Linked DNA regions of Homo sapiens: region 2 is linked to region 1. The links come from fine-mapping of genetic effects on gene expression. A gene starts in region 1. The other region holds a variant in brackets. All regions are shown on one strand. Distances are between the middles of the regions. Region 1 holds the start of SNHG28 (small nucleolar RNA host gene 28). Region 2 overlaps SLAMF8 (SLAM family member 8).

What was found.
Region 2: its variant is fine-mapped to the expression of SNHG28 in lung (TOPMed, PIP 0.95).

The regions. Positions count from the first base shown.
Region 1 is chr1:159,850,944-159,859,273 of GRCh38, forward strand. SNHG28 (small nucleolar RNA host gene 28) reads right to left here and starts at 4,094. Exons shown (of 5, transcript NR_147125.1): 1 at 3,814-4,094. It overlaps VSIG8 (V-set and immunoglobulin domain containing 8), which reads right to left. Exons shown (of 7, transcript NM_001013661.1): 2 at 7,791-7,969; 3 at 7,147-7,348; 4 at 6,802-7,023; 5 at 5,581-5,700; 6 at 4,940-5,138; 7 at 3,373-4,083. The coding sequence ends at 3,810. It overlaps LOC124900450 (small nucleolar RNA SNORD64), which reads right to left and starts at 1,029; the gene lies at 963-1,029. LOC107985216 (a long non-coding RNA gene) reads left to right here and starts at 3,904. Exons shown (of 2, transcript XR_001738263.2): 1 at 3,904-4,025. RefSeq lists a silencer at 3,707-4,116.
Region 2 is chr1:159,828,967-159,837,296 of GRCh38, forward strand. SLAMF8 (SLAM family member 8) reads left to right here. Exons shown (of 5, transcript NM_020125.3): 2 at 900-1,226; 3 at 3,910-4,215; 4 at 4,296-4,403; 5 at 6,218-8,330. The coding sequence ends at 6,294. It overlaps SNHG28 (small nucleolar RNA host gene 28), which reads right to left. Exons shown (of 5, transcript NR_147125.1): 5 at 5,512-7,189. Among named protein-coding and RNA genes, the nearest start is that of SLAMF8, 6.3 kb to the left of the region's middle. The variant A/C (reference allele first, on the strand shown) is at 3,871.

The DNA of each region.
Region 1 (8,330 bases):
AGAAGAAAGAGGCTGGGCTCTCAACAAGCAAGCAGCTGGGGAAAGGAAAGTAGAACGAAGTGACCTTGAAGTACTGTGCTCTTCTGAACACCTCCTACCAACTAGACCAGACAAGTGTCCAGTTGTGTCCCTGTTGCAGCCATCCTGTATGGAGTGCAACCACTTTGTCCACTAGAGGCAGCTGAATTAGAAATACAATGCTCTGGGGTCCCTAAGAGTAGAACTTGGATCAAGGGATAAAAGCTATATGGGGACAAAAACCGGGTTCAGAGAAATGTTCTGTTGAATATTGACAGTCAGAGGCCAAGTGGCCTGCCTCGGAAGGTAGTGAGCTGCCATTGGAGGTTGTCAAGAAGACGTTACATACCCTTTGTCAGGAATGCTATAGAAGGAATTCAAATGCCAGAGAAACAGCCTGCTGTCCTGGAATCAAACATGCCTAGATCAAATCCTGAATTATCTTTATTATCTTTGTTGCCTTGGTCAAGATACCTAATCCCTCTGAGCCTCAGTTTATTCATCTGTATAATGGGGATAATACACAACCTCATAGGACTAAAGTAAGGAATAAATAAGACAAAAAATCAAAAAGCACCTAACACTTAATAGGTGCTCAATAAATGCCAATCCCCTTCCCACCAAAAGGGGGAGCTGGGTTAGTTGGCCTTGAAGGTCTTTCTACACCAGAGAGTATGACTCTAAAACACTTCCTGGCTATTAAGAAAGAAGGCATACATCTGAAAGAGATAAAAGAAGTCAAGATTAGGTCAATGAGGGGAAGAGAAAGAAGGATGCTAAGAATGGTCAGGGATCATTTAGAGGTCATCCATGACAGAGCCGTGTTTCCTCTCAACTGACCTTCTAGAATAAAATGGAAAAGTAAGATTGGGGATTTAAAGTCCAGCCTGAGGGGCCTCAGTTTCCCTATCTGTATAGTGAAGGAGTAGGATTTTTTTTAGGTCAGACTTCAGAGTAATCATATTGAACTTTACTTCATAATGCTCAGTAAACACAGCTCATTATAAATCCAGCCAAGGCCTTTCCCAGCAACTCATGCAGCTATATAAAATCACTAATACCTGCAGAGTGCACATCCCTTCCCAAGGACAGGGGGCCTGGGAGAATGAGATGACTAGTTTTATGTGACAATGGATGTGAAACAGCAACAGTATTGACCGACACCGAATTAAGGGGAAAATATGAAGGAAAAAAATCAAAGACAGACAGACAGACAGACAGACACACATACACACACACACACACACACACACACACGCAGCAACCTGCCAAAAGAATAATATTGAGATCCTGGTTTTGATAGAACTAAATATAACATCTTATATTTCCACAAGCAAATTGCCCAACAAATTGAAATGGAAATATTCTAATGTTACTACAGACAGATATAATGTCAACAACTTGCTATTCTCCTCAATAATTCATTATAAACCAATTTAAAGACCTACAGTACATTGAAAACAACCACCAAAATATTCCAGAGTTAAGTGTAAACAAATAATATGAAAGAATCAAGAAGGATGACCAAATAAAATCAAGGCAGGCCAAACAAATGAAACACAAAGTCCAAAAGGATTCTGAGGAAGGTCTAAGCTAAGTTCTAACATCCCTGAAACAAGGGACCAAAGTGGTAAGGTAACACCATCCAAGTTGTAGCATGGAAATGATAGAACCCACACTACTTTTCCTGATACTTGTCTCCTAGCAGACATGAAACTGCTGATTTCAGGAACTTACCCTTTCAAATATATTTTTGCTACCAAAGCACAAATAATCTAACATAAAATGAACTCTTTAAATACAAATAAATTACATATAAAATAAGAAACAGCCCAGACAATTCAGATGTACAAGCACCTACCCTCTGCATCACTATACTGTCCTCATCAGCTCATCAAATACAAAATCATTCACATTCATCAAATACCCAGTTGAACTATGAGGTTCCTTCTTAAATCTTGGGCATTTAGGATGGACCTAACTGTTTTTTTTTAAGTTTAATCTTTCTCAGCACAGGAAATTAATCCAGCCAAGCTTCTCCTATTAATCATTTCTATTCCATATTAGAAATTCTTAAATTATAGGCAAGTGGGCATTGCATTAGCAAAGTAGATTCCAATGCCCAACAGAGATGATGTTGAACAAAGAAGGATTAGTAGAGCTTGTCTACTTGTCTGCATCCCCCTCCTTGCTGTGTGACCACCTGGTCCCTTTATCAACAAAGGAACATCTATAACACTGCCCACTTTACTTACTGTTTGCTTAGCAAATATATCCTTGGAACTTTATCTCAAACATTACTCTTCAATTAAGCACTCCCCATCTCACTAAACAAGAGAGGACGTCTTGCGCCTATTAACAAAAACAGTGCTTATTGATTTCCACTTTTGAACCAAAAATGACTAAAACATCCCCCAAAATACATTGTAAATATCATGACAAGGTGTTTAACAAAACAAGTGCTGGTAAATACTAAATAGCTCAATTAATCCCTATCTAGGAGTGGCTGACTACTTCAGGGTGTAAGAACGTGGAGCTGGATCTCAGAAAGGCCTAGATTCTCACCACAGAATATTCCATCATAAGGCAGTAACTGTAAAATATCTAAAAACTTTTTTTTTCTAGCATAAAGTAATGCTGCCACACTCATTCACTTGGTATTTCTCAAACATCTCCTGCAGAATGGGCTCTGCACAAGTTGACCAACTGCAGACAAATGAAAAAAAAAAAAGAACCACAAAAATAATTGTTCTAAAACACCAGCAGCATCTAGGTGAAGGGATTTACCATACTCTCCGAGTTCCATAATATATGCTATATAAATATTATTCCCCCTCCTTCCTGCACTTCACCCAGCACCCTAGAACTGTGGCACTTAGTTTTTTAATATAAGAGGTTGTAGTCTTATTTTCACATGTCCTTGTTTCTGTCTCACCGGATGCCTGTGCCTTCTGTGCTCCAAGGACTGGTTTCCTTTTAGCTTTCAGCAACATACAAAGACTCCCTAGACCTTCAGAGCACATTATTCTCAATAGAAAATCTTGACATGTGAAAACTTTGAATATTTAGAAATGGCAAGTGTATTGCACTTTGTCGGTTCCTCAGTTTATTTTACGGTCGTAGATATTCTGAGCTAATTCTTTTTGTCTTTGTTTTCCTTTTATCTGCACTTTGTATGTTGTTCAGAGGAGTTGCCCTGGATGGCCCCTTCCAGCTCTGACTGCCAGGGATCTAAGCAGGAGGGAGGAGAGGGGGCGTGGTCGAGGCGAGCGACAGAAGCAACCCTCCCCGGCCCTGGGCAGGGTTCGCCACCCCGTGCCCAACCTCCGTGGAACGCGGACAGCCACTTCGGACTCACGTCTCAATGTTTCTTTATTGTGCTAACACTGCTGCCTCAGAGCTCAGACCTCACACACAGAACAATTCGTCCAGACAGACCCCCACCCACCCGGCCCCCGGGGCCCTCTGCTTAGGCTGGGGACACCAGGCCTCCGGCCTCAGCCGCTCTAGGACACTCAGCCTCCTCCTCCCTCCCTCTCCCCCAAGCCTTCGGTCCCGGGGGTGCGGAGAAGGCTCAGGATCGCCTTCCTCCGCCCTCGCCCGCCCCTTCCCACTTTTGGGGAGGAGGCTCTGCCTCCCTACGCATTTCCTTAGGGAAATGCCTTCACCCCCAGCCGCCTGGCAGCCTGGGGCGAGCGAGGTCGTCCCCAGCCCCGACGTGTCCCCAGCTGCAGACAGAGAGCCCCGCGCCCTCCTCCTGGCTGGGGCGCAGCCCGGCCCGGCGCGCGCGCTCACACCAAGAGGCCGTTCTTGCACTGCACCGGCCCCTCGGCGCAGTCAGCCGGCTCCGCGCTCTTGACCTTGACGTAGACCGGGGAGGGGCCCGCTTCGCAGGCGGCGGCGGCGGTGCAGGGCGCCAGGGCCACGTCCTCGGGGCCGCCGCAGGGGGGAGGCGCGTACTTGCGGCGCAGGGAGCGGCTGACGTTCTGCGTCGGGTACCCCAGGAGGTGGGTGACGCGGCTGCCGCGCCCGCTGGCCTTGCACCCGGGCGCCACGGCGTCCTCTCTGTGGAAAACAACAGGCGGGCGGGTGAGCGGGCTGCTCCGCAGCGGGGCGTGGGCACGGCCTGGGCAGAGCCGGGGGCTCTTGGCAACCTCTTGTCTCCCGCGCCTCCCTCCACCTGCCCTCGTCTCTCTCCCTCGGCCTCGACCTACTGTCCTTTGTGACCCTTCCTGGGTCGGCGACCCTGCAGCGGTCCCGGAGCCAGCATCCCCATCCTCCAGACAGGGCTTGTCCACGCGTATCTGGAGAGCCCTGCAGGCAGCCCCCTCCAGGCCCCTGCAATCCCTTTCTGATGTTTCGCAGGCCCAGAAGAAGGTGCTTTTCCTCTTCTTCTTTCCTTAGCTAATCCTGACCTTGCTCGAGCAATCTCTCTCTTTCTCACCTCCTGCCCCTCAGTCTTCTCCATCTTTCCCTCCATCCCCGAGGCATTGCAATCATTAGCACTACTAGACTTGTTCTATTTTTATTTCTAGTTTGCTTCTAATATAAGTTATTAGCACTATTCTTATTATTAGCTCTTCTTAAATAATAATGTCAGAGTTCTTACCGGCGCAGTACAGGGGAAACGTGAAAAAACATAGGCCCTGCCCTCCAGGAGCTTACAGTCTAGACAAGACAGACAGGTGCGTAGGCAGGAGGGAAATGGAAGGCAGGGAGCAGAGGTGAAGACTGGGGTGGCAGGGGGAGGGGAAAGCCATGAGTTGGGTGGCAGGTCGACATGCCGCAGTCCCAGCACTCCGTGGCGATGGCGGGCAGGGTTGGGGTGGGGGGCCCAGCCGGCCGGTGGCAGGCAGGAGTGAGGTGGGCAGGGCGCCGGTTCCCTGCCGCACAGCAGCATGCAGCATGCATCAGGTTTTACCTGATCTCACTAGCCAAGTCGCCGCAGGCCCCTCCGCCGACCCCGCCGCCGTTGCCGTAGCCGAAGGCACCGCGGGCGCCGCCAGCCCCGGAGCCCCCGCAGCAGCAGCAGACGAGCCCCCAGATGCCTACGGCCAGGCAGCCCAGCGCGAGCAGAGAGCCCAGGACGATGCCGATGATCACGCCTATACGCCGGGAGTCTGTGGAGAGAAGTGGAGGCAGGTCAGGCTTTCTCACAGCCTGGCAGGTGCCTGAGGGAACAGCACCAGGAGGTGCCAGGTCAGGGGTTAATGGGAAAGAGGGAGAGGGACCCAGGGGGTCTCTTAGCCCTGGAACACCCAGTGGGGAAGATATGGGGAGATGCAAGTTAACCCCTCGTGTCAGCATGCTTCTCCCAGGGCTTCCAGCTGCTCTGGGCTCTAGAGCTCAGAGTGGAAGCTGTGCTGGGCGAGCTTGACCCAGCTCAATAGGGTCAAGATCGTACCCACTGATCTTGGCCCACTTGTAGGAAAGGGGCTGGGAGCCCCCACTGGCAAATGGATGGCAGTGGAAAGGCAGAAGCAGCTGAGGCTCCAAACCAGAGCCCAGCCTCCTCCAGTTCAACCCTCCCAACCACCCAGCCCTCAAGACTGCTGCACCTACCTGAGACCTTCACCTCCACCACACAAACACTGTAGCCCACGTTGTTGGCCACTGTGCACTGATACAGCCCATCATCTGCTCTGGAGATATCCTTCAACACCAGGTCCCCATTGTTCAGGCCTGAAAGTGAAGTGGAGAGAGGCCTGGTCTCTGAGAGCTCCCACCCCAACCTCAGTCCCTGTGGGGTGGGGGATGGGACACCCACTCTAGAAGAAGGGAAGGCTTATGCATGTGTGTACACCCACACCCACACACACACACACACACTCCACTCTCCAGGTGAGTCACCTTCCCCCTGCTGTGAAAGAGATGCAAGAAAGGACCTCTCTCCCAGCAGCAAGACAGGGACACCATTAATTCACTCTGACCTTAGGGAAATATGTACGCTCTCTGAGCCTTGGTCTCCTCCTTTGTACAGTGAGGACAGGAGAAGCCAGGGGAAGAGGAACTCTAAGGTCCCTCCTAGCTCTATTATTCTTTGTTTGACTGAATATTTTCAGCTTCTCTATGTACTAGGAGCTTTACACACCTCCCCCATTTAATCCTTGCATGCCCATGAAAGGTATATGTTAGTATTCCCTTTCCATATATGAAGAAATTAAGGCACAGGGAGGGTAAGCCACTTGCCTTAAACTTGGAGCCAGTCAGTGTCCCAGCCAGGATTCAAGCCCAGCTCTGTCTGAGACCAGGCTCCCTCCAAATTCGCCATAGTACTTTTGACTGACTCTCCACATTTGCCTTATCATCTGCTCTCAATAGCAGCTGCTGGGCCAGGCACGGTGGCTCACGCCTGTAATCCTAGCGCTTTGGGAGGCCAAGGCGGGCGGATCGCCTGAGGTCAGGAGTTTGAGACCAGCCTGGCTAACATGGTAAAACCCCGTTTCTACTAAAAATACAAAAAATTAGCCAGGTGCGGTGGTGCATGCCTGTAATCCCAGCTACTCGGGAGGCAGAGGCAGGAGAATCGCTTGAACCCGGGAGGCAGAGGTTGCAGTGAGCCGAGATCATGCCATTGCCCTCCAGCTTGGGCAACAAGAGCGAAACTCTGTCTCAAAAAAAAAAAAAAAAATAGCAGCTGCTGGGGCAGGCCCAGAGGGAGGGTCTCCCACAGGGATTCCAGGTTTGATTTGATGGCACTGATAACCCAAGGAAACCCCAACAGGTCCCAGAGTCCCTGATCTTCCACTCACCCCCGACTGCCCTCATCCAGGGCCCTCTCACCTTGGTTTATGGAGCTGTGGAAGGACTCCTGGTAGGACAGCTCTGAGTGGTAGCTGTGCTGGGAGGTGTAAGACCCAGCTCGATAGGGGTAATGGTGCCCACTGATCTTGGCCCACTTGTAGGAGAGGGGCTGGGAGCCCCCACTGGCATAGCACTTCAGCACCACATCGTTGCCATATGTCATGTGGCCCTCTGTCCAGCACATGGGCACTGCAGGTCGTGCTGCAAGGAGGCAGACAATTGTAAGCCAGGGCCCAGCCAAGAGACAGAGCCAGGCTCAAAGTGGCCAAGCTGCCCTTGGCTCTTAAGCCAGGGGGAGAGGAGCTTAGAGGAGTCTGGCCATACCTTGGACAGTGACAATGACCTTCCGGGTGGCCATGGTGGTCTTCTTCACCCGGCACTCATAAGTGGCTGTATCAGATACCTGCAGGTTCATGAGGTTGATGGAGGCATCGTACTGGCTTGGGTCTGAGGCTGCAAAGCGGACCCTCTGCTGCAGATGGGGAAGGCTGCCATGGTTGATCCTCTTGTCCTGGTAACTAAGGAACTGTGAAGAGGAGAGGAAAACAGGTGGTGAAACAGGCAGAGCCAAGAAGGGCCATGTGGATTGGCTGCTTTGGGCAATTCACTGAACTTCTCTGAGACTCTTTTCTCAGCTGAAAAAATGAGAATAATGATGCCTGAGCCACTGACCTCTTACAGAACTGGTGAGATCAGGTGAGATCAAGCACTTGGAAAGATATATGGTCAGACTGGGAACTTTTTGAAGGCAAAGACTACAACTTATCTTCCTTTTAGAATGGGATGGGAGGAGGTAGACTGACTGGCTAGCTTAATTCACAATTGCAGAGCTCTCATCCCCATTGCCTCATTCCCTGAAAGGCCTTGGGGGAGGTTCAAGGTCAGTCTTCTCCCTTTGGGATGTTGGCTGTCCAACAGGTAGACATCATGAAGCCTAGAGGAAGGAGACCCCTGTGCCCAGCACTCACCACGTTCTCTCGGTGGTGGGCGGGGTCTGAGTTGACCTGCATCCACTCGATGTCCAGCCCATTGGGACCATAGTCCTCAGGGTCCAGGACGTAGGGGCAGCCCAGCCTCACATTATCACCTTCTGCCAGGTACAGGACCTCCTGTCCATCCCCGTTGATCCGCACAGCAGACAGCAGTGCTAGGGGGAGGGCAGAGAAGATGGGGTGGTAGGAGCAGAAGCAGGGCTTCAGGAGGAGTCAGTGTCAGCCCTTCCCTTCATATTCTCTGTCCACGGCACCCAGAGGTCAGCAGTGCTTTCATAAAAAGGAGGGCTGCTCGTAGTGGGTGTGTATGTGTGTGTGCATGAATTGTCACAGGCATATAACAGCTATACATATAGCTGTTATATATGTAGCTGTTATGTATGCTTGTATGTATATATGATTATGTGTATGCATGTATGAATATGTACACGTATGTACATTGTATGCTTATGAGTATTTGTGGCTGCTTATGTGTACTGTGAGGATATTCATGTACATGACCACGTAGCGTGTCTG
Region 2 (8,330 bases), 22 kb before region 1:
AACATCCAGTGGATCCCAAGGACCTGGGAGCCGTCCTCGACTCCTTTTTCTCCTTCACTCCCCAGAGCTAATCTATTACCAAATCCTACTGATTACACACCATCTTCGTGTTTCTCAATTCCTCCCACTTCTTCCCATCCCGGTTGCTCCCTTCCTCAATTCAAGTTGCCGTCACTTCTCCACTGGACTAACATGAACAGCCTAAGTCCTGCCCACCTCCAGTGCATTCTCCACATCCCTGCTGGAGTGATCTTTCTAACCATGCATCTAATCCTGTTACGCTCCTGCTTAAAACCTACCTGAGACGCCCCATTGCTCTACAGATAAAGCCCAAACTCCAGTATTGCTTTCAGGTCTCTGCATGATCTGACTCCTACCAACTCTGCAGTGTAATTTCCTACTCCTCACACAGAGAACTACTCTCAGTTCCCCTGGGCACCAACTCTCCCCCTCCAGGCCTTTGTCAGTACTGTGCCCTCTGCCGGTGACACTTCCCTATCCTGCTCCAGGCCGCCCTCGGCTTGGCCTGGCTGATTCCCATTCCTCTTCAAGGCTCAGCTTAACAATTTGTTTTCTGAGCCCATCAAGGCTGGGTGAGATCCCCTGTCACCCTACCTGTGTTCTCCCAGGGCATCTCATTTTTCCCTTCATGGTATTTAACAGAATTCATTTTTATTGATTTCTTGAATGTCTGGCTTCCTCTGTAAGTTCCATGAATGCAGAGACTGGGGTTATCTTCCATATGTTTTATCCCTGGTACCTAGCACAGTGCAACCTCAACTTGAGTGGAGGGAATGTCAGTGGAGGGGCCCCAATTCACCCTATAGCAGCTCAGATGCATGCAAAGAAGGATGAGGAGTGTGGGGCAGGCAGAGTGACCAGGGGCTCTGTTCTTTCAGCCCTACTTCCCATTACAGTTACTGGTGCCCAAGTGCTGAGCAAAGTCGGGGGCTCGGTGCTGCTGGTGGCAGCGCGTCCCCCTGGCTTCCAAGTCCGTGAGGCTATCTGGCGATCTCTCTGGCCTTCAGAAGAGCTCCTGGCCACGTTTTTCCGAGGCTCCCTGGAGACTCTGTACCATTCCCGCTTCCTGGGCCGAGCCCAGCTACACAGCAACCTCAGCCTGGAGCTCGGGCCGCTGGAGTCTGGAGACAGCGGCAACTTCTCCGTGTTGATGGTGGACACAAGGGGCCAGCCCTGGACCCAGACCCTCCAGCTCAAGGTGTACGGTGAGTGTGTCTGACACTGGCTGCCTGGCCCTCTTCCCCCACAAAGCACCAGACGAGCATCCTGAGTCATAGCAGCCAGGGAGAGCTGGGTTCCAGAAAGCTCTGGTCTCTGACCATGTTGCCGACTCAGGGAACAGCTGCTCCCTGGCAGTCACGTCTAAGAAAATTCCTCCTGGCTGCAGCAGCCAGGCTTTGCCATTTCACAGTGCTTGCCTGAACTCTAGCTCAGTCTTTTCTTGGCTCAGTGGCCTTGGACACAATGCTTAGCCTCCCTGGCCTTCACCTTTCTCCTTTGTAAATGGGCATTGTAATATTACCATGTAGAGTACCCACAGGATGAAATGCAGTGGCATTTGCAGTGGCATCCAGGACAGAGCCTGGCCTGTGCTTCCTCAGTTCTAAAGGATCATCATAGACTATAAGATGTGCCACTAGTCTATGTAGTCTATGTAGTCTGTGTAGACTATGTGTCATTAGTCTAAAGGAAAAAAAATGATGTACCATACTAAACTATGACATAATGGGTTTATTTAAAAATCAAATTATAATGAAACTGTAATTAAAAGTATAGAATTTACACATTTCTTAAAAGGGCTTCTTAGAGAGATCTTAACTATATATGATTCATGGGTTCTCTCAGTCATTCATCATTGCAAAACAAACCATCCCAAAACTTACTGACTGAAAACAACAACGATGTTTACTTCTCATAATTCCGTGGGTTGGCAGGCCCAGCTGGGTGCGACTTCTGCTTCGCATGGGTCTGCAGAGCCATTCGCGCAGCTACATTCAGCACCTCGGTTGGCTGCATGGACTGGGGGCTGCGTGGGCCTTGTTTCCCAACAACTCCACCTCCACCTCCACCACAGCCACCTCCACCACCTTCATCATTTGTCTTCTGGTCAAGAAAGAGTGGCTTTCAGCTCTCATTTATCTACCTAATGGGCTAGAAAAGAGGCATGGGTGACCCTAAATCACTGTTTCAGTAAAACCTTAGAAATTTAGATAGAGTGGAAGAGAGGGGAGTCCAGATTTAAGAATGGAAAGCAGAGGTAGCAGCTGGGAAGAGGGTAGCCATGAGGGAGATAAAGATTGTAAGCAAATTGGGGAGATGTCTTGAATCCCCCCGAGACAGCTAACTGGCTGTCCTTGGGCGAGCCACTCAGGGTGCCGATGCAATTGCAAGGTGCCTTTCTGGATGCACGCAGCCCTGAGCCTCATCTTGGCAAGCAGAGTGCTGGCTGGATTTCAGCACCCCCCACCCCCTGCCACCTGTTACCCTGTGACCCCCCTTAGCCCAATGTCCTTGTGTAGTGAATAACCTACCCCACCATACAGGCAGCCCTGGAGCCCCTCCTCTGATCTGAGTCTCAGCTGCCGCACATGTGAAATGAGGACATTGAATGTGATAATACATGCAGCACCCACACCACTAAGCTCTAAAATGCCTTGTTCTCAGCAGCTGAATTACAGATTTTAAGGAAATTGCTGTTTTATTGCTTCCAAATACATAGCGTGATTAGAACTAATTGCACGAAGCTGCCAAGCAGCCGTCCTTAGGAGTTCTGCTTTGACAATAGATAAGAACGATTTGAATTAGCAGATCAGTTACTAGAAATGTCAATGGGTGTTTCTACTGTGCTTGATCGTGTTTGGAAGCAGCTTGTCCTCTTAAGTGATGTAAATATCCCCCCTGTAATCTTTGTTTATACTATTAGTGTGCCCAGCAAATCATTTCTCTTTCATATCACAAATCCCACCAGACTGAACTGGCATTAACGAGGTTTTTCTCTGCTTGACTTTGGAATGCTGTCAGAGACTGAGCCCTCCTGTTGTCACCAGAATGCTCTCCCACTGGCCTCATTTCCACTGAGACTCAGGATTTACTCATCAACCTGTATAGAAAGGGGAATCCATGGCTAGGACACCAGGATATCAGTTTGTTCAGTGACCAGATATCGAGCACCCACTATTTGCCAGCACTACAGAGCTAAGTTTACTAAGCTAACAAGACAGAGCCCCCACCTCTGGGCCCCTCCTTCACAGCATTTTGCACCCTCATAATTATTTAATTAATTATTCATAATCATTTTGTATTTGTCTTTCTCACCAAACTGTAAGCTCCAGAAGGCTAGGAATGTGTTTGTTTTCTTGCCTGACTTAATAAATGCTTGTCATCTCTTGTTGACTGACTGACATATTGTGAGAGAAATACTACAAAAAGAGATAGAGTGCTTGGAGAGCTCAGAGCCATGCCTGGGAAGGCTTCACAGTCAAGGCATTAAGCAATGTGTTCAAGCTGGGCCTTGAAGGATGGGTAGAAGTTTTCTAGGAGGACAAGAAGGGAAAGGCATCTGTGTGCGCAGATGAATTATGTGAAAGCATGAAAGATATTCAAGAGCATGACATGTTTGGGAAAACTGCAAATTAATTAGGATGAGCAGGGAGAAGCAGCAGGAGGTACAGCTGGAGAGATGGGCATGAATCGTTTCCTGAAAGGTTTTGAATATCAAGCTAAGGAATTCAGCTTCTGTCCTGTGGGCAGTGGAAAGCCAGACAAGATTTTGGAACAAGAGAGGCCTAGCCAGAGGTGGCATCTAACCCTGGGTAGATCCCAGAGCCAGAGATGTGGGCCCTGCCCAGC[A/C]TCCCTGAGACCCATACCAGCTGTACTTTTCTTTCCCAGATGCAGTGCCCAGGCCCGTGGTACAAGTGTTCATTGCTGTAGAAAGGGATGCTCAGCCCTCCAAGACCTGCCAGGTTTTCTTGTCCTGTTGGGCCCCCAACATCAGCGAAATAACCTATAGCTGGCGACGGGAGACAACCATGGACTTTGGTATGGAACCACACAGCCTCTTCACAGACGGACAGGTGCTGAGCATTTCCCTGGGACCAGGAGACAGAGATGTGGCCTATTCCTGCATTGTCTCCAACCCTGTCAGCTGGGACTTGGCCACAGTCACGCCCTGGGATAGCTGTCATCATGAGGCAGGTATGCTAAGGGCCAGCAGTCAGTGGTTGAGGGCTTATGAAGCATCAAGTCCACCTCTAACCCCACCCCTCCATGTTCAGCACCAGGGAAGGCCTCCTACAAAGATGTGCTGCTGGTGGTGGTGCCTGTCTCGCTGCTCCTGATGCTGGTTACTCTCTTCTCTGCCTGGCACTGGTGCCCCTGCTCAGGTAGGAGTCCTGCAGGTGCAGGAGGTAGGTGGAGGAAGTGGAGTTCCTGGGGAGGAGGGGGTCTTGGACCTCCTCCTATTTAGGCTTCAGATGGTCTGCCCCTTCCTACCTCTCCCACCTCATCTCTTGGCCTTCTCTAGCTCATATCTTGGTTTACAACCAGACTCAACTACTTGAAGTCTCTTATGTGGTTCTCCAAATGAACTGTTCTCTCACATCCATCTGCAGACCTTTGTACATTGTATTCCCTCTGCCTGGAACACACTTTCCATGATTTCCCACCCAGCCTCCCCCCTTCATGTGGCTATCTCATACTCAGTCTTCAAGGTGTGCTTGCTCCAGAAAGCCTTCCCTGATTGCCCCAATACTCAGGCTGATTAACATCCTTTCTTCAATCTCCATTGCTTACCCCAATCAGAGAACTACTTACATTTACTTCCCCACTGAATTCTGAGCCCTTAAAAGGAGGATGCTGGGTCAACACTGGGCATGTCAGTGGTTCCCAGAACACAACTCTTCCTGAAACATAGCTGGTATCGACAAACATTGTTGAGTGGGAGTCTAAATGACTCCGAACCCCTTCTTGCCTGAGATTTCTACAAAATGGCTCCCTAAGATAAGCTACTCCCTGGCCAGTGGCTGATAGGGTTGCCTTCTTGAGAAGAGGAAGGAAGGGGAAACTCCAAGATCAGACCTGGTTCTAAGCTCTACATACAGCTCAGTCCCTTCCTCTGCCGCAGGATGCCCTGCCCCTGAAAGAACTACCCGACTGACCAGGGCTCCGTGGTCATTTCCATGCCAGGCTGTCGGAGCTGGCTTGTCCCAAGGTGGAGAAAGGGAGTCAGCAAGGAGGAGTCACTGAGCCCTCACTATGGTGGGTGTGTCCCAGAAGGCAGGGTCTGGGTCCAGCCTCTAAGCATGGGGACAGGCAATGCTGATTCCTGTTCATTCTCTCCAGCAGAGAGAAGGGCAAGAGGGAACAGCTGAGCCTGCACTCCACCTGAAGGCCCCATCTGCTGTGGGAGGGTATTGCCCTGGCCCCTGGCCCCTGGCCCCTGCCCCAAGAGTCCCCAGGATTTGTGATAAGAAAGTGGAAGCCAGGAAAACAGCAGGGAAAAAATACCTTTATTGAGATATAATTCACATAGCATACAATTCACCTATTTAAAGTATACAATTCGATGCCTTTTAGTGTATTCGCAGAGTTGGGCATCCACCTTCACAACCAATTTTAAAACATTTCTATTACCTCCCCCAAAACCCCATAACCCCTTAGCCATCACCTCCCAAATCCCCCATTCCTCCCACAGCACTAGTCTGCTTTCTGCCTCTATGCTTTTGTCTTTCCTGGACATTTCATATAAATAGAACTATACACTATGTGGCCCTTTGGCCAGGCTTTTTTCACTTAGTGTCATGTCCTCAAGGCTCATAAAATAGCATCTTTGGCCACTGAGAAGGGACCCAACAACCTGGGATAGTAGAAAGCTCCATGCAGGGAGTCCAGAAGCTGGTTCTGGCTCTGCCTCATGGCTTCTGTCCAGTGATTTAACTGGGTCCACCACAGTCCTAACTTTCCATACCTTCTACAATTAAATGTATGGCATAGTTGCAGGCCAAGGTTAGATACTAGGAAGAATTTCCTATTCTTGAAGAGCCTCCCTTTCCAGGGTGTTGGAAGACCAGGAGAAATGTTCCTTTACCTAAGGTGACCTTGGGCTAACACACTGAGGATTCAGAGGCCTGCAGGCAGGCCAAGGATTCCAAGACTCCAAACACTGGAGGGGTAACTTTCTTTCTGATGTCCTTACCAGGGAAAAAGAAAAAGGATGTCCATGCTGACAGAGTGGGTCCAGAGACAGAGAACCCCCTTGTGCAGGATCTGCCATAAAGGACAATATGAACTGATGCCTGGACTATCAGTAACCCCACTGCACAGGCACACGATGCTCTGGGACATAACTGGTGCCTGGAAATCACCATGGTCCTCATATCTCCCATGGGAATCCTGTCCTGCCTCGAAGGAGCAGCCTGGGCAGCCATCACACCACGAGGACAGGAAGCACCAGCACGTTTCACACCTCCCCCTTCCCTCTCCCATCTTCTCATATCCTGGCTCTTCTCTGGGCAAGATGAGCCAAGCAGAACATTCCATCCAGGACACTGGAAGTTCTCCAGGATCCAGATCCATGGGGACATTAATAGTCCAAGGCATTCCCTCCCCCACCACTATTCATAAAGTATTAACCAACTGGCACCAAGGAATTGCCTCCAGCCTGAGTCCTAGGCTCTAAAAGATATTACATATTTGAACTAATAGAGGAACTCTGAGTCACCCATGCCAGCATCAGCTTCAGCCCCAGACCCTGCAGTTTGAGATCTGATGCTTCCTGAGGGCCAAGGCATTGCTGTAAGAAAAGGTCTAGAAATAGGTGAAAGTGAGAGGTGGGGGACAGGGGTTTCTCTTTCTGGCCTAAGGACTTTCAGGTAATCAGAGTTCATGGGCCCTCAAAGGTAAATTGCAGTTGTAGACACCGAGGATGGTTGACAACCCATGGTTGAGATGGGCACCGTTTTGCAGGAAACACCATATTAATAGACATCCTCACCATCTCCATCCGCTCTCACGCCTCCTGCAGGATCTGGGAGTGAGGGTGGAGAGTCTTTCCTCACGCTCCAGCACAGTGGCCAGGAAAAGAAATACTGAATTTGCCCCAGCCAACAGGACGTTCTTGCACAACTTCAAGAAAAGCAGCTCAGCTCAGGATGAGTCTTCCTGCCTGAAACTGAGAGAGTGAAGAACCATAAAACGCTATGCAGAAGGAACATTATGGAGAGAAAGGGTACTGAGGCACTCTAGAATCTGCCACATTCATTTTCAAATGCAAATGCAGAAGACTTACCTTAGTTCAAGGGGAGGGGACAAAGACCCCACAGCCCAACAGCAGGACTGTAGAGGTCACTCTGACTCCATCAAACTTTTTATTGTGGCCATCTTAGGAAAATACATTCTGCCCCTGAATGATTCTGTCTAGAAAAGCTCTGGAGTATTGATCACTACTGGAAAAACACTTAAGGAGCTAAACTTACCTTCGGGGATTATTAGCTGATAAGGTTCACAGTTTCTCTCACCCAGGTGTAACTGGATTTTTTCTGGGGCCTCAATCCAGTCTTGATAACAGCGAGGAAAGAGGTATTGAAGAAACAGGGGTGGGTTTGAAGTACTATTTTCCCAGGGTGGCTTCAATCTCCCCACCTAGGATGTCAGCCCTGTCCAAGGACCTTCCCTCTTCTCCCCAGTTCCTGGGCAATCACTTCACCTTGGACAAAGGATCAGCACAGCTGGCCTCCAGATCCACATCACCACTCTTCCACTCGATTGTTCCCAGATCCTCCCTGCCTGGCCTGCTCAGAGGTTCCCTGTTGGTAACCTGGCTTTATCAAATTCTCATCCCTTTCCCACACCCACTTCTCTCCTATCACCTTCCCCCAAGATTACCTGAACAGGGTCCATGGCCACTCAACCTGTCAGCTTGCACCATCCCCACCTGCCACCTACAGTCAGGCCACATGCCTGGTCACTGAATCATGCAAAACTGGCCTCAGTCCCTAAAAATGATGTGGAAAGGAAAGCCCAGGATCTGACAATGAGCCCTGGTGGATTTGTGGGGAAAAAATACACAGCACTCCCCACCTTTCTTTCGTTCATCTCCAGGGCCCCACCTCAGATCAAAGCAGCTCTGGATGAGATGGGACCTGCAGCTCTCCCTCCACAAGGTGACTCTTAGCAACCTCATTTCGACAGTGGTTTGTAGCGTGGTGCACCAGGGCCTTGTTGAACAGATCCACACTGCTCTAATAAAGTTCCCATCCTTAATGACTCACTTGTCAACTAGTGGACTAATTAACCCTCCACCAAAAAAACAC